4 separate regions of the Homo sapiens genome follow, and regions 1, 3 and 4 are each reported to be linked to region 2. Evidence: microRNA targets listed by miRTarBase, many of them from high-throughput screens and not tested one by one. Region 2 holds a microRNA gene; each other region holds the end of a gene's coding sequence.

Evidence for each region. The annotated mature microRNA hsa-let-7c-5p reads UGAGGUAGUAGGUUGUAUGGUU and lies in region 2 at 1,902-1,923, opposite strand. An mRNA with a match to its seed (bases 2 to 7 or 8) in the 3' UTR can be bound and repressed. Matches are read on the target gene's strand: a 7mer-m8 pairs with bases 2 to 8, a 7mer-A1 pairs with bases 2 to 7 and ends in A, and an 8mer does both.
Region 1: the mRNA of NR6A1 is a reported target of hsa-let-7c-5p. Seed matches in the 3' UTR shown: 8mer at 2,960-2,967, 8mer at 1,989-1,996 and 7mer-m8 at 1,962-1,968.
Region 3: miRTarBase lists CHTOP as a target of hsa-let-7c-5p. Seed matches in the 3' UTR shown: 7mer-m8 at 1,257-1,263.
Region 4: the mRNA of USF2 is a reported target of hsa-let-7c-5p. The part of its 3' UTR that is shown has no 7-base or 8-base seed match.

What each region holds. Positions count from the first base shown.
Region 1 is chr9:124,519,351-124,523,648 of GRCh38, forward strand. It overlaps NR6A1 (nuclear receptor subfamily 6 group A member 1), which reads right to left. Exons shown (of 10, transcript NM_033334.4): 10 at 1-3,443. The coding sequence ends at 3,355. Among named protein-coding and RNA genes, the nearest start is that of NR5A1, 14 kb to the left of the region's middle.
Region 2 is chr21:16,537,161-16,541,760 of GRCh38, reverse strand. MIRLET7C (microRNA let-7c) reads right to left here and starts at 1,933; the gene lies at 1,850-1,933. The region is part of intron 6 of MIR99AHG (mir-99a-let-7c cluster host gene); the gene reads right to left. It overlaps MIR99A (microRNA 99a), which reads right to left and starts at 2,672; the gene lies at 2,592-2,672.
Region 3 is chr1:153,644,326-153,648,623 of GRCh38, forward strand. CHTOP (chromatin target of PRMT1) reads left to right here. Exons shown (of 6, transcript NM_015607.4): 6 at 739-1,981. The coding sequence ends at 944. Among named protein-coding and RNA genes, the nearest start is that of SNAPIN, 12 kb to the right of the region's middle.
Region 4 is chr19:35,278,192-35,282,489 of GRCh38, forward strand. USF2 (upstream transcription factor 2, c-fos interacting) reads left to right here. Exons shown (of 10, transcript NM_003367.4): 8 at 507-601; 9 at 755-883; 10 at 976-1,630. The coding sequence ends at 1,065. Among named protein-coding and RNA genes, the nearest start is that of HAMP, 2.2 kb to the right of the region's middle. RefSeq lists enhancers at 1,831-2,330, 2,003-2,502, 2,009-2,153, 2,593-2,672, 2,763-2,812 and 1 more and a cis regulatory region at 2,074-2,087.

The DNA of each region.
Region 1 (4,298 bases), not on the chromosome of region 2:
GGTTGAGCGCTTTGAGACAGATTCTGGGGAATTTCTCCAGATTAACGACGAGACCACCAAACCTTGCAAAGGACTCCAAAAGTCTACAAAGGCAGCCAGAGAGCATGAATAAGTTCCAAGATGCCAAACTTTTGTCTTGGGACAAGAAAACATCAAAAAGGAGAGGGAGGGAAAGGCTTGCATGTTTCAATGTAGTGCAAGGAGGTGGGATTCTCCTTTTCCATGTAGCTTTCAGAGTCGTATTTTTATGGCATAAAAATTCTCACTCGGCTGGGTGCAGTGGCTCACGCCTGTAATCCCAGCACTTTGGGAGGCCGAGGCAGGCGGATCACGAGGTCAGGAGATGGAGACCATCCTGGCTAACGTGGTGAAACAATGTTTCTACTAAAAATACAAAAAAAGTTAGCCGGGTGTGGTGGCGGGCGCCTGTAGTCCCAGCTACTCAGGAGGCTGAGGCAGGAGAATGGCATGAACCCGGGAGGCGGAGCTTGCAGTGAGCCAAGATCGCACCACTGCACTCCAGCCTGAGCGACAGAGCGAGACTCCGCCTCAAAAAAAAAAAAAAAAAAAAAAAAAAAAATCCTCACTCAAAGTGAGTGCTTTTGGTGGTTGGGGATCAGAGAGAGGGCAGAAAGAGAAATTAGAGAAAACATGCACAACTTTTCTCTCCTTCCACTCGCAAAAAGGCTACCTGTTAACCAAACATTATGGGGAAGAAAGCAAAAAACAAACACACCAAACCTCCCCTCCAACCTTTCTCCGTGTCCTTCAAACCAAATTCACAAATACATCTAGTGGCTGACCTAATGTCTCCACGCTGCTAGCTACACTCCTACCTTCTCCTCATAATACCTGAGTTTGCAATGCAACACATTCACTTTACCCTGTTTAAAAAAAGCCCACGTCATAAAAGGACTGGTGCAGAAGACATTAAAGACGGTCCACAGGTCAGGCTCCGGCTCGGAACACACAGCCACTTTGCTCTGAGATTCTGCAGGGCTCTCGGCAATGAATGGGCTCTTTGTTCTGTGGAATCTGCTGCAAACATTTGTAAAACTGGATTTGTACAATGGCAACTTGCAGAACCTTTCCCCTACTCCACAAATTAACAACTTGCTCTGTTCAATACTACGTTGTTGGAGAGACATGTTCTTGCCTCATCAGAGAGCAATTTCTTTTGACACCCAACACAACGGGTAAAATGTTTAATTTGAAAAGCAATTTCAAAAATAATAATTGGACAGATAGAGGCCTCAGCAAAGAACGATGCTGTACACAGGAGCTGTCTTAGAGAAGGCATCTGTGATATGTGTCTCCTTCCCGATCTGGAGGAAAGCAGCTCAGAGTCTGACCTGTGGCCAAAGAATGTGATCTAGTTGGTTAAATAAAATTCAGGGGAACAAGTATCGTGAACTTAGAAATAAACAGATACACACGAACACACAAGAATCTTCCCACTGACGTGAAAAACATGCTAGCTGGAGCTTTTCCTGAGGAACATGTCTCTTCCTTCTCAGAGCAACTGGGGAAACGGCATTGAGGAGTAATGTTCCGAGTTTTAGATCCATCAAGGGCCAAAATCATCACTCTGCTGGTACCCGTAACATTTCACCAGAAAGAAACAATTACAATCAGACATGGACTACCCAGTATGCACACGACGTGGTGCCCTCCTGGGTAGCTTTACTAGGTTGAGTTGAGGAGACAGCAAACAGCCTTTGACTAAATAGGCAGAAGAAGGTGCCGTGGGCCCTTCCAACCTACCCAGGCATGCAGCCAACTAAGTGGTCTGCTTGCCACACTGGCTGTGAAAGATACCTGGGTGTAGGCAGGACAAGCACCTGAAAGAGTTCAAAGACAGACCTGGTGTAGCGCTGGCCAAAGTCAAGAGGGTAAGGAACACGTCCTGGGATAAGGTGGGGCAGGTAGTGAGAGGTCAAGGAGTCCAGGCCATGTCTGCAGAGGTAGCAGCCGGGCCATTAGGAACCTGAGGTAGTTTAAAGCCCCCCTTCCCTTCCAGGTGCTTCTGGCTCCAGCCCTCCAGGCCTTGGCTGGCCAGTCCACTGCTGAAGTAAGGGGCAGCTGAGCCACTCTGGGCCTTGGGCTTTGTGTCCTGGGTCCCTGAGGAAAACTGGTCTCACTCTGGAGAGAAAAGGAGAACTTGGAGAAGAACTTAGGGGCAACATTTCTGGTCAGCAGACAGGTGAATGGTCCTTCTCATTGTTTAAAAAAGCCTGAAGTTTTCGGATTTAGACCTGAGGGTGCGGTAGGAAGGGGAGGGGAGAGGAACAGATTTCAAAAGGGGAGTGTCTATTCTTTTTGCAGTCTGGCCTTGCCCTACTACCCTTTGAAGAAAACAAGGTGAAAGGAGAATAAATCAGTAGTGGGCACCAGGCTTCAGAACATGGCATTCTGCTCAGCTGGTTTTTCAAAGGGCCAATAGGAAGTCAAATGTGTAAGGGAGTGGGAAGGAGGAAGGTGGGCCTCAGGAGATCCAGGTAAGGAAACTAGGTAGCTGGGGGCCCCGAGGGAGCTGGGAGGCGAGTCCTGTGGATCAAGTGATTGCCAGGACTTTGCCTAGATGGAAAGTTCGCAGTGGTAGACAATGATGGTGGTGCAGGGGTAAGGGGGGCAGCAAGGTGTGAGAACAGAAATTCTTCTGCCCTTAGGACTTGTTGGGTGGAAGGACACCTGCCTTAAATATGGTCACTGTGCCCTACTCTCTTAATTTTCACGCTTTCCAAGGAAAGGACGTGGCTCAATCCTCACCTCCTACCCTGTTGCCGTCTCACCAACCTTGCTTAGTGAATCTCCTAACAACACTTTGCCCCCTTACAGTGTGCCGTTTTATCTGGCAATTCTGTGGCTAAAAAAGGCAATTTGCTCTCTGACAGACAAATGTATGAGTCTGCTGAGAAAATGTGGAAAAAGTAGGGATGGCCACACCCCCCATTTCCATTGAGGTAGTCATCTTTGTCAACATTATGGAAATAGTCATCTTAGCCCCATCCCACCCTCTCCCTCAAAATACAAAAGAACTATTTCTAAACAATGACAACACTGTAACATTAAACATCTTCACATTCTGTAAACTGTAAGAAAATGCATTGGCTGCATTCACACAAAAGCATGTGCATCATGTTGAAGGCCATACATTCAACTCTGTCGTGAAATAAATATATAGAAAAATGAGGTTAAAAAAACAGACAAACAAACAAAAACTCTTCTTGCTATGGAGGCAACGGGAAATGCTGCTCCACAGCCTCCATCTTGGTCTCTCTGGCTTTTCCCTCCAGAGCCTGTCCTGCCCACCCAAGACGCTGTGGTTGGCCTGAGGAGGGCGCCTGGAACAGGTCATTCCTTGCCCACACTGGTCTTGCAGGAATGCAGCACCACCTTAAAGAGGAGGGGCAGCTGCTCCAGGGGCACATTCACCATCTTTCCTGGGAACAAGGGGGGAGAAGAAGAGTTAGCAGTGGTCACTCTAGTGGACAGGCAAGTCAGCCTCCTTGGGCTGGTGGAGGCAGAGTATCACCTTGCTGAGTGACTGGGGCAAGAGAAGTGCCAGGAGTATCACAAAGGTTGGACACACTGGGCTAACATCCTAACATCCAGACCCCTTTGGGTGCCCAGGGAGCCTAGTAATGGTGCCAACTCATCATCATTCTACTACTCAGGGAATACTTAACTCTGTTCTAGGTGGTTAAATGCATTACCTCGTTGAATTCTCACACTATTTCTGTGTACTACTTTTTACCCTCATTTTATAGATAAGGAAGCTGAAACTGACAGGTAGTCCAAAAAACTTCTGTCCTGTTTTCTTCACCCCCTCAACCCCCGGTAGATTTTCTAAGTAATATTCTATAAAATATTGCACTTCAGAATGGTTTAATAGGTTAATAAAAGTACTAGGGGAAAAAGAAGCAGGGGTAAAGAGGCAAATACATTTGAGAAACTCAGGGTTAAAAGAGCTTTACAGATTTCTTGATTGAAGGACTTCTCAGAGCATTCAGTGTGCTAATATAATTTATAAATACCTAAGGCTGTGTTTCTTCTGGCAAACAGTACCTCTGAGTGACCTGGGGAGCCGTTCGAAAACACTGATTATCTCCAGGCTCTACCCCATTCCAATTAAACCAGAATTCTCCAGGTGCAACTCAAACATTGATTTTTTTTTTTTTTTTAAGTTTTCCAGGTGATTGGAAGTGCCGCCAAGGCTGAGGACCCAGTTCTATGGAGGAGAGTGGCATGTAATTGTTGACTTCCTTTTATTTCACAGAGTGCCTGCTTAATATCTC
Region 2 (4,600 bases):
AAACACATAGGAAAGGGATCCTAGGCTCTCAAGGAAAAAACTATTTATAAAGATACAATTGTTTACCCATTTAGTTGTCCCTTTCTTTCATCCGTGGGTTGAACTGCCATCATTAGACACAATGGTGTTCCTATTTGCTATGAGTCACTTTCCTTTTCATCTCTTCATGTCTTTTTGTTTGTTTGTTTTAGGTCTATGTCTACTGCCTCTTATTCATTGCTTCTTGATTAGTCCTTGCAAATATTTTTCTTTCACAGAGAGAAAGAGTCTTTACTACTGTAGACCAATCAAATTATTTTGCTTGAAGTGACTGGTATTCACTTTCTAAGGCTCACATGTTCTACGTGTTGGGGGTAGCCATTCCTTCTTCACTACATTGTTAGCAAGTTCTAGGTATTAAGATATTTTGGATGCCTGAGCATTCTAGAAAGGTCAGCACCACATAGCCAGTATCTTGAGGTCCTTAATATATATTTGCATCTAAACGTCTCTTTAATGAATTCCATGTTTCATATTTGGAGTCTTAAATTAAAGTTCTAACATCAACAACTACTTAATCCTGTGTCTGAAAGATGATCTATGTAAGATAGCCTCACTACACAAATTACACCACTAACAGCTGCTAAAGTTGACAGCAAACTAAGGTTCCAAAGAGTCCCATTTGCTTTGTAACACAAAGAATATTATAAAGTGCCTTTCCTTTAAACAAAAATGTGTTCACATTCTCAAATTATACTTTATATACATATTTATTATTAATTTATTGACATGTTTCTGGTTTAGTTGCTTCTGGTTTATTCAACAGATATAGCTGTACAAAAATAAAGGGCAGGAGACGAGGGAAATACACAAAAGACACAAATCTAATTTTTAAAAATCATATTGTTAAATGAGACTTAAAATAGAATATTTAGTTGAAATTGATGCTAAAAGAAAAACGATTCATCTGGAAAGAAAGGTATTTAAATTCAACAGAAATATGAATTATCTAAGTGTAGGATCATAAACTGTCATGAACTAATTAGTAAAAATGAATTTACTCTATTATTTTTATTCTAGATAAAAAGTACTTCTAAATTTTAACTTATCTGTTTAGAATGAATGAACACATTCAACACAGTCAAAAATCGACACATGTATTACTGATGCGGAGCAGTCCAGGAATTAAATTTAAACAGTTTTAGGAGCAATAAATAAAACTCAGATGTTTGACCACTGCCATAACTCATTCAAATATTCAATAGAAACTCATCACAGAGTGAGGTCTTACACTCCATTCACTAATCCAATAAATAGTTAGTGCTCATTATGAGTAAGGCATTGGAGGGGATACAGTGAAAAATAAAACATGGACTTTGCCCTCAAGGGGCTTACAGTCTAGTGCGGAAAAAATCAGCAAGCACATAAATAGCCATAACATAAGGTAGAAAGTGATGTGTCATAAGGAAAACGCAAATAATGTGCTATGGGAGCTATTAACTCTAGCAGACATTTTTTATTATAGTGTCTAAGCAGCCAATATAAATAGACCAATGATCCATTTGAAAATTAAGGTCTGAATTTTGTTAATCTATAGATGATAAAAAGCTTTAATATTAATGCAATTTAAGTCACTACCTACAATTTTCTTAAAATGTTTGAACATGGAGTGACAACCCATTAGAAATACCATTTTGACATTGTTCATAAGCAGATACAAATGGAATAATCTAATAGGGCTGAAATGATCATTTTAATGTAATAAAGGCCCAAATCAATGATCCAAGATACTCATGACACATTACCTTCTTGCACACAAATTGGCTCAATCAGGTTAAAGTGATGAAGAATTCCTCGACGGCTCAAGTGTGCTCCAAGGAAAGCTAGAAGGTTGTACAGTTAACTCCCAGGGTGTAACTCTAAACCATACAACCTACTACCTCAACCCGGATGCACACAGCTTCCAATGTTGCTTCAAACTCCTTATCATATCTTCAGTCAGCTCCTCCAAATATGGCAGCCATACACCTAAGGGCTTGGCAAGGATATAGATATAATATTCTAACATTTTACCAGTAAACTTTGCTGCTAACTGTTTCTCATAGGACTAACCTAAACACTTGGGTTTCCAGCATAGGTCACGTAAAATGTCTTCTGACCATCTAACCTGCCATAGTTCTAGTCGCAATTAATAGTAAAAGTCAATTGCATTCAGCCTCATTTTTTCAGGAGAAATAGGCTCAATAAAAACATATAAATCCAATGGTAGTCTTTAATTTTCTTACTGAAGTTGAAGAGGTACACTAAGCACTACAGTATGCACTGAAGTTTCTGAACAGAATCTATTCAGATCCTGGTCCAAACCCTGCTATAAAGGTTCAACTTTCTTATGCAATTTACTGTACATGGAATCGAACTTGAATGGGTGTGATATAAACGCTTCCAAGTTGTTGAGAATTGAAGCCTGCCTTGTAAGACAGACAATGATTAAAATAAACATTAAAAACAAAGGAAAATATAATGACTTCAAAAGTATATAATCAACTGGAGTTTAACAGGATTTTACTGAACTATTGTTGAACGGCACTGTGTATAGCATTTTGTCAGATTACCACACTGACACAGACCCATAGAAGCGAGCTTGTGCGGTCCACTTCACCACAAGATCGGATCTACGGGTTTATGCCAATGGGCAACATCTTGCATGGGCCCCCTATTAATATAGAATTTGTTGTAAATATCTGATGCAATTAAGAGTCAAAAATAATATTGATCCTTTAGTATAAATGTTTTAAATGCTGAGTTCTAAGGATGCATATTCTCCATTAAAGGCCTTCATAAATATTCAAAACTAAATACAAATTTATATGCATGAGAATTTAAAAAGTAGTTTATTGAAAAATTTTTCACGAACTGCTTTTGTTTCAATAGTAAATATTTTGGAATTAAACTATTCTAATTGAGTTTTAAAAGAAAAAAGAATCCATACATGCATGTATGAATTATATAATTGTGAGGCATGAATGTAGTATTACGAGCCTATAATTAAAACCAAATTAACTATTAAGTTAATTGTGTATGAGTTAGACCGTGCTTATTTTAATTTTTATAAAACTAGTTTAGTTACTGGTTTCAAGGAATTGGTAACATTATAACTTTCTCATAAAACAGTAAGATCTTGTTCACTAGCTAGAGAATACAGGAAGTTATTATCAGCCTTAAATATATACATCTGTGTCTATAGTCGGAATGGTGCTAAAATTTACAATATTTGGATGAGTTAATATAAAACTAAACTAAATGGCACGATAATGGCATGATTACTAATACTCCACACTAACATTTATACTCCAGATGTATTACATGACATAGGATATCTTCTTTCCTAAATAAAATATATTTAAACTTATTGTTCAAAAAAGATACACTTAAAATGCATGGCTACATACAACTCTCATCTGGTCAACAGGTTGGGCAAAAATAAAATATTACTAAAAAATGTTTTAAACCACCAGACAACAAGCAAACACACAAACGAGTAAACATAAAGCCAGCCACATACACGTTTTTTTAAGATTGTAAACTCAACTGCAACAAAATGATAAGTTGTACAATCATTAATCATTTCACATCTATAATCACTTAGCATTTCCTAATTATATCTTTATTGTGTAAAATAATACTACATACTAATTGCTTAGTGATTTTGCATATTTTGAAATAAATACGTTTTATAGCCTTTATATAGATCATGTGTTCTACATAATTTTAAACCATTATTTATTCTTAAATTGTCCTCATAATTATTAAAAACTATAGTAAATAATCAACAATCATACATTCAGTTGTAGTAAAAATATTTCAACATATATTTATAAATGCAAATGTGAAATAAGAGGCAGCATTGGGTTTAGTTTTACCATAACTATAAGAAAGCATGTTTTGGTTTCATTGTCTTATCAGGTCATGTAAAAAAGATGAAAAAGCATGACCTTATTCCCCTCCTCCTGATTTCACTTCCTTTTATATGGTACAACAAATAAGAAAATATAATTTTTTTCTTTTCCTATAAAGCTTTCTAGTAAACCGTATTGCACCTATCTTAAGCGTATGGATACACAGACATATATTCAATGGGACACAAACTGCCCAATTGACCACAAGAAATTTTTCACAAAGGTAGGTCATAGCACACATTTTCAAATGAAAACCATCAATAAAATTTCAACAGTTACACTCATAAAGAATATGAAATTAATTCTTATAACAAAACACAGTCAAAAGAATGTTGTTTTTCTTTAAAAACAGTAAATCTTATTTGCTCTTTGTTTTTTATTTTTACCTGAAATGGTTTTCTCCTATGATCACTTTCTTCACTTTTCATATCCATTTTAAGTTTTTCCCTAAAACAACCACAAAAGGAGAAATATCAGACAACTGCTGTCTAGGAGGAGCATCTGAGTGGATCGTGGGAATGAGGGTAGACGATCGAGAAGAAAACACGATATCAAAATGGGCAAAACCTTTTAAAGTATTTTTTTTTTAAAGCCTTGGAAGACTCACAGGGCCCCACCCAGGCTACTCATATGACATATAAAGTGGTTTCATAGTTTGCATTTAT
Region 3 (4,298 bases), not on the chromosome of region 2:
GGATCCTGAGAGACATCACGAGGGTGGGAGAGACTAAAATAGCTTTTCAAAAAGCTGAGTTTGTTTTGTTAACTGAATTCACACTGCTTCTCAGATAACCACAATTGTCAGTTGTCATAAGGTAACTAGAATTAAAGGTAGAAATAGCTAGGACAACTCAAAATATTTTTTCAAATCTCCCCTACATTGTTCCTGTGTCAGAAAAACTCAGTCTCCTGACACATGAGGTCAGCTAGCTCATTAGACTTGATAAGTTTAAGGACAGGTGAGATGACTTTCCAGAAGGGTCTCCAATAAACTTAATTTGAAAACTGTCTTGTCTTCACACCCCTGATGCTCTGTGCTCTTGTTACCACCTCCCTATCTTACCAAATGGGGTTATCTGTCATGTATTTTAATTATGAACTTAGTGAATCTCAAATGTTAGGTAATTTTATCTTAGGATTGATTAAGGTTTTTTAAAATTATAGTTGCCAGTTAATTATTTTCCTTTATTGATAGAATAAAATTTGTTAAAATAGCATTTAGAGATGATCATGTGATAGAGGATTCATTATGTGTGCTTTCCATGTGTTGCTTTCTACCCATTGTGTTTCCTTTTTTTCCAGATTTCTCCTCTTTGCCCTGCCCTTCAGCTTTTCTCAGCTAGGCCCCACTGCTCTAAGGGGCATTTACTACAGCACCTATTAAACTTACTTGTAACTGTCTCTTTTTTTTTTTTTTTCCCCTTTGGGCCAGGTCGGGGTATGATAGGTCGGGGAAGAGGGGGCTTTGGAGGCCGAGGCCGAGGCCGTGGACGAGGGAGAGGTGCCCTTGCTCGCCCTGTATTGACCAAGGAGCAGCTGGACAACCAATTGGATGCATATATGTCGAAAACAAAAGGACACCTGGATGCTGAGTTGGATGCCTACATGGCGCAGACAGATCCCGAAACCAATGATTGAAGCCTGCCCATCCTCCCATGAGAGACTCTTGTTAGTCAACACATCTGTAAATAACCTTGAGATAACAGATGAGAAGAAATCTGATTGATGCTGGATGGACCTATCACAATAGGCTGTGGACTTACTTGCCACCAGCTTGTGCATTTAGTGTGTTCCTTTTACTTTTTGATACTGTGTTGTATGAAACCCTTTTGTCCTTTGATTTGGTTTTTTGTTTTTGTTTTTTTAGGGGGGAGGGGGGGTTTCCCCTCCTTTGCCCAGACTTCTCTTTGAACACAAATGCATTAGCCTTGTGGCTAGAACACCCTCTTCCTACCTCTGTCTCCCCTCACTTGTCATATGCTCTGACATGCTAACATTTCTTTTGTTCATCCCTGTTGCCCCCACAGAAACATCCCAGAAAAACCGGTCAGTGTTCCTTCCTCCCTGATCCTTAGGTTTCTGAAATAGGGTTCTGTTACATCCTCTTCGATAGCCTGTTTAAAATGTTTAGAAGGTCTGGAGCTCAAAAATGCGTTCTTCCACATTGATAATTTAGTAAACTGAGAACATTGACATCACTACAGGGCAGCATAAGAGGTTGCTTACATGTGGTAGCAGCTCTGGTTTGATTCAAGTTGCTACCATGTACATTGACAGCACATATACCATAACCAGCGTGTTGGGTTGAATTGCACTTTCTACCTTTGTATGAGATTTACAGACTTTCCTTCTGGGTTTGTATCATGACCAGAGGGGTACTATAGGGTTGGTTTATACTGCAATATAGAGGATCAGAAGCCATTTGATTTGGTAGGTGTGTCAGAAGGGAGAATGATGGCAGACGAACTGCTGGAAGAGGTCAGAAGATAGCCATGCTAAAATGCAATTATATCCTCATGTTTATCCCAAACTAATCTTGGACTTTTCCACTCATTAGCTTTGTTTTGCCCTTGTTTCCCTTGAAGGTTTAAGTTCAACCATATTCTGTCAACTGTTCAGTTTCAGTGGAATCTTGTATTTCTGGTTCATTATAACAAACTGTTCGCTTAAATCCACCCAGGACTCTCTTTATTTGAGGTGCCTCAAAATGCCATGGCTACTTTAATGATGTTTTTTTTTTTTTTTCTTGTGACCGAGTCTCGCTCCTGTCACCAGGCTGGAGTGCAGTGGCGCGATCTTGGCTCTGCAACCTCCAACTCTCTGGTTCAAGCGATTCTCCTGCCTCAGCCTCCCGGGTGGCTGTGACTACAGACATGTGCCACCACACCCAGCTAATTTTTGTATTTTTAGTAGAGATGGGGTTTCACCATGTTGGCCAGGATGGTCTTGATCTCTTGACTTGGTGATCCACCCGCTTCAGCCTCCCAAAATGCAGGGATTACAGGCGTGACCCACTTTCAGCCTCCCAAAGTGCAGGGATTACAGGCGTGACCCACTGCACCCAGCCACTTTAATGATGTCTTGATATACCCCTTGTATGGTTGAGAGTTTCTTTCTTCTTACTTGTGTTAAAATTCTGGAGAGCCTGTGGCTTTGAGCAGAAAGTGAAGAATTTGACTTCCTCTGAGCTCTGCAGAAATAACACCACGCCCACAAAAACTCAAGGAAGATTGTCTTGGGCAACATTCTGGGCCCTTGGGCCCTGGCACATATTTCCCTTTTTCCCTATGTTGAGAGCTGAAGAGAAAAGAACCTAGTAGCGCCCAGCCAAGCCAGTTGTCATTGGGCTGCCTTTCACCCTAAACTGCCAGGAGGTTGTACTTACTGGGGGCTGGGAAGGAAATTTTGGTCAGGACAACCCAAACTTGAATCCTGTGATGTGGGGTGTCTGTAGGTCCCAAGGGAGATGGGCAGTGGGGGTCTAGCAGAAGGCTACAGGTTGGACGGTGACTGCAGAACTGAATCCCCAGTTCAGCTCCTTCTGCCTTTTCCAGTGCTAAAGCATGAGGACTTCCCCTCCCAGCCAACCTCCCCAACAACCCAAACAAGTGCAAAATGCCAGGCTCCCTCCTACCCCAGAGGAGACTGATGCTTAAGAGTTCTCTATAAAGGAGGTGACTGCCGTAGCCTAGGCTTCCTTCCTTCTACCTCCATGTCCTTCCTACTTCATTGAAAGAATTTATCCCCAAATCGCTTATGTGGGGCACAGGGAACTCTCCTATCAGCCAAGGGTCCTCCAGCCCCACCTACTGCTCACTACAGTTCCCAGGGTCTCCTGAGGCCTGTGTCCCTGTCATCCTCAGTCACTGGTCGTGTGGGACAAGGTGAGTAAACCTGACCTCCTCTGGGTCAGCCTTTCATTCAGCTGCCATGTGCTGAGGGCTTGCCATACCAACACAAGGCATCCTTTGTAAGGGTAACATTAGGAGCATAGGGAAGAGGTTGATGAGCTGGATCTTTTAAGACAAGGGAAAGTAGAGAAAATACACCAAGCAGAGGGAACCAAGTGTAAAGGTACAGTGCTAAAAGAACACCTGAGGCTGGGCACAGTGGCTTACGCCTGTAATCCCAGCACTTTGGGAGGCCGAGGCGGGTAGATCACCTGAGGTCGGGAGTTTGAGACCAGCCTGACCAACATGGAGAAACCCCGTATCTACTAAAAATATGAAATAAGCTGGGCGTGGTGGCACATGCCTGTAATCCCAGCTACTCGGGAGGCTGAGACAGAAGAATCACTTGAACCCGGGAGGCGGAGGTTGCAGTGAGCCGAGATGGCGCCATTGCACTCCAGCCTGGGCAACAAGAGTGAAACTCCATCTCGAAAAAAAAAAGGTGGTCCTGCTGCTATGAATAGATAGCTCCATGGACCCAGCAGGGGTTAGGGTAGAGGCTCCCACTTATGCCTCGGTGGGCTCTCCCACCTGCGTCACACCCTGGCTAGTGACCCAGTCAGACGTGCTGGGGACCCTGGCTGACCACCTGTACCAGGGGCAAGGAAGGAAGGAGAGGGGAGCATTGTGAAGCAGGGCAGGATGACTCTTGAAGGTGGAGACAGGCCCTGGACAGCTCTGGGACCCTTAATGGTGGCAGCAGCCCCCAGTCATAGGCCTCATTGTGTGGGCAGCCTGGGACAGCTAAGATCCCCATGAGGTCTCTTTAAAGGATTCACTAAATGCTCCATTTAGTCTTGGTTTGTTTTTTTGTTTTGTTTTGTTTTTTGAGATGGAGTCTCGCTCTGTTGCCTGGCTGGAATGCAGTGGTGCAATCTTGGCTCACTGAAAACTCCAACTCCCTGGTTCAAGCAATTCTGCCTCAGCCTCCTGAGTAGCTGGGATTACAGGCATGCGCCACCACACCCAGCTAATTTTTGTATTTTTAGTAGAGACGAGGTTTCACCATGTTGGCTAGGATGGTATCGATCTCCTGACCTCG
Region 4 (4,298 bases), not on the chromosome of region 2:
AACAAAATCACGGTGCCAGAGTCTCTGGGGAGACTGGAGAATGCAGTGCAGGGGCCGCAGGAGCCAAAAAGGGGCACTGGTCCTGCGAAGAGTGGCTCTGTCCATCCCTGCCTTCCAGTATGTGCCCACTGTGACCAGAGCTCCATTTCTCAAAAGAAGCCAGTGATGCCAATTACCATGAGAAATTTCCTTATTTTTAACTGTCGATTAAAATTTGTACAAGTATGGTGGGGCAGGCCTGCAAAATGATCTCCAAGTGCCTGGCCTTTGATGCCCGTCCTAAAAGCATGTGTGGCACTGGAGGGCCCACGTTTCTTTGTTCCTCTTGAGAAGCTGGGGTGGGGGCCGGCTGGGCTCAGGGTGCGGCCCCTCACTTCCCAGGGCTGTGGTCTCGGTGGGGCCTGCACTGTTCCTGGGTGTCCTTGGGCTGAGCCTCTGCCCTGTGAGGACGGCCGCTCAGGCATGATCCGTCAGCGAAGCCGTGGCTGTGACTCTGTTTTCCGCAGTGGAGCGGAGGCGGAGGGACAAGATCAACAACTGGATCGTCCAGCTTTCGAAAATCATTCCAGACTGTAACGCAGACAACAGCAAGACGGGAGCGGTGAGCACCCCGGACCCTCAGTGTCTGCGGTGGTCCCGGCCCCCGACCCTTGCATGCAGAAAGTCCAACAGCCATGGGGCTCGGGAGTCATCCCTGGGGTGGAGGCCGGTGGGCGGTGCCTGCCCTAAGGCTCCTGGTCCCCTCGCCCCCCAGAGTAAAGGAGGGATCCTGTCCAAGGCCTGCGATTACATCCGGGAGTTGCGCCAGACCAACCAGCGCATGCAGGAGACCTTCAAAGAGGCCGAGCGGCTGCAGATGGACAACGAGCTCCTGAGGCAGCAGGTGGGTGCGGGGCCTGGAGCGGGTCAGGGCCCAGGAGCCCCAGATGCAAGGCGCTGGCCCTCAGCTCCCTTGACCTCCGTCGTGTCCGCCAGATCGAGGAGCTGAAGAATGAGAACGCCCTGCTTCGAGCCCAGCTGCAGCAGCACAACCTGGAGATGGTGGGCGAGGGCACCCGGCAGTGACGCCCGCCACCACCACGCAGCCGCCGCCGCCCACGCCGGCCTCTGCTGCCCCCTTCCCCAGCCCTTAGCACAGAGAGGGACACATGCCCCTCCCCCAGCTGCGTTTTTTTATAGTAGATTTTTAACAAAAAACGGGGAGAAATAATGCATTTCTGTGGATACAGTGCCCACCGCCCTCCTCCACTTGGAAACGGTATCCTCCCTGCCCATCCGTCTGTCTGTCGCCCTTCTCCCGGCCCTCACTAAGCCCCGGCACTTCTAGTGGTCTCACCTGGAGGCAAGAGGGAGGGGACAGAGGCCCTGCCACGTCCCGCTGCCTCCTGCTCTCTGGAGGTACTGAGACAGGGTGCTGATGGGAAGGAGGGGAGCCTTTGGGGGGCCACCCGGGGCCTGGACCTATGCAGGGAGGCCACGTCCCACCCCACCTCTTGTTTCTGGGTCCCTGCTCCCCTTTGGGGGTGTGTGTGTGTGTTTTAATTTTCTTTATGGAAAAATTGACAAAAAAAAAATAGAGAGAGAGGTATTTAACTGCAATAAACTGGCCCCATGTGGCCCCCGCCTTGTCTGCTTGTGTGTTTGTCCATCTCAGGAGTGGGGAGGGGGCCTGGGGTCTGCAGAGCTCCACGAGGCATGGTTCTGCTGTTGTGCACATGGCTGTGCATGGTCCCTGCCAGCTGCACCACCCATTACCCAGTGGTTGGTTGGATGGATGGAGGAATTAAGGAATGAATGTCCCCTTTGAGGCCCTAGACGTGCATGAGGGTGTGGGGAGCTGGGGTCAAGGACATGTCCCATGTTGGAGGAGAGGCAGGGGTCTCCGTGTCAACAGTTCCTGAAAACACAACCAGCCCCTGGCCCTGCCCTGCTGGGCCAAAGCCCTCCCCTCTGCACCAGCCAATAGTGGGGCCTGGCCTTGAGCCCCTCACCCCCAGGGAGGGCAGATGGCCAGGGCGCCAAGCTTGGCCCGTCAGCCTGTCGCCTTGCACCAAGGCTCTGGCGCCTGTGCTGTGACCCCTGCCCCTGCTGATGATGAAACCTGTCCTCAGCTGAGATGCAGCGATGCCTGGTAGGGCTGGGGGCTGCTCCTGTGTCTCCCCAGGTGAGCACACCCCTATTCACTGGGCCCTGCTTCAGCCTGCAGCACCCTTCAACTCCCAGGAGCTGGGCTTGCCACTCTGCTCACCTTGTGGAGCTCCATCTGCCTTTCCTCCCCAATTCCCCCACTCCCTGCACTCGTCTCTTCCCACAAGAGCCCTGTCTCCTTTTCCTAGCTATTCCCATCTGAGGCCATCTTTATTCATTTAGTTTTTAGAGACAGGGTTTCACTCTCACCCAGGCTGGGGTGCAGTGGCACACAATCACGGCTCACTGCAGCCTTGACCAACTACAGGTGCGTAGCACCACAGCCAAGTTTTTGTATAGATGGGGTCTCGCTTTGTTACCCAGGCTGTGACAAGAGGAGCCTCCCACGTGGTGTGGATGAGGAGGCAGATGGCAGGGCCTGTGCATTTCTGTGCTTGAGTGGGCCTTGAAAGTGGTTCAGCAACCAGGAAGAAGTGTTCATTCCTCGACAACAACATCCCCGGGCTCTGGTGACTTGGCTGACACTGGATGGCCCTGGAATGAAAAAGGCAAAGAGGCAAAATGTGCAAGGGCCCATCTGGAACCAAGGTTTGTTGATCCCCTGGGCCGTGTGCACCCTGAGCTGGGCCTGGTAGTGGAAAGGAATGAAGGCACTGCAGTCAGGCAGCCTGGGTTCATCCCCCAGCTAGTGGTGTCCTAAGGAACCGGCTCCCCAAAAACATCCCTGGCTTGTAGTGCTTGCCAATTTCTGGGTGTCAAGACTCCCACTGCTGCTGATTTCAGGATACCAGCATGATGCCACTGAATGCAGAGTTTCGAGATGTGCATGGTCTGCTATGTTGAGCCAGGTCTAGCATACCGCTGTGCCCTGCTGTGTTTTAGGGGAGATGGGGAAACCTGGTGGGTAAGAGCAAAAGCCCTGGAGTCAGGCTGTCCAGGCTAGAATCTCAGCTCTGCCTCTGGCTGAGCAAGCTTGGGCCATGCCCTGATCTCTGCCTTCAGTGCCTTTTCTGTAAAGTGAAGGAAATGAGTGTCCGACGGGGAGGAGGTTCCTAAAAGGGAGCAGGGTCTGGGGAGCCCAGGCCTCTGGGGTTGGGTGACTGAGAAGGCAGCCCCTGAATACAGAGCAGAGCTGAAGGTGGGGCAGTAAGTGCTGCTGGGAGAACAGGCAGCACAGGCTGAGTTGGTGCAGAAGTGAGTCAACATATGTGCCATCGTATAAAATGTACTCATCGGACTGTAGATGTTAGCTATTACTATTACTGCTATTTTATGTTTTATAGACAGGGTCTCACTCTGTCACCCAGGCTGGAGTGCAGTCACACAATCATAGCTCACTGCAACCTCAGCCTCCTGGGCTTAAGCGATCTGCCTCAGCCTCCCAAGTAGCTGGGACTACAGATGTGTGCCACCACGCCTGGCTAAATTTGTTTAAAATTTTTTTTGTAGAGATGGGGTCTCCCTATGTTGCCCAGGCTAGTCTTGAACTTCTGGGCTCAAGCGACCCTCCTGCCTTGGCCTCCCAAATTGCTGGGATTACAGGCATAAGCCACTGTGCTGGGCCATATTACTGCTGTCATTTATGGCCAAAAGTTTGCTCAAACATTTTCCAGTTACCAGAGCCACATCTCAAGGGTCTGACACTGGGAAAACACCACGTGCGGATCGGGCACACGCTGATGCTTGCCCTGCTCAGGGCTATCTAGTGTTCCCTGCCAGAACCTATGCACGTGTGGTGAGAGCTTAAAGCAATGGATGCTTCCCCCAACATGCCAGACACTCCTGAGGAGCCTGGCGGCTGCTGGCCATGCCCCGTGTGCATGTAGGCGATGGGGAAGTGAGTGGAGGAGAGCGGAACCTTGATTCTGCTCATCAAACTGCTTAACCGCTGAAGCAAAAGGGGGAACTTTTTTCCCGATCAGCAGAATGACATCGTGATGGGGAAAGGGCTCCCCAGATGGCTGGTGAGCAGTGTGTGTCTGTGACCCCGTCTGCCCCACCCCCTGAACACACCTCTGCCGGCTGAGGGTGACACAACCCTGTTCCCTGTCGCTCTGTTCCCGCTTATCTCTCCCGCCTTTTCGGCGCCACCACCTTCTTGGAAATGAGACAGAGCAAAGGGGAGGGGGCTCAGACCACCGCCTCCCCTG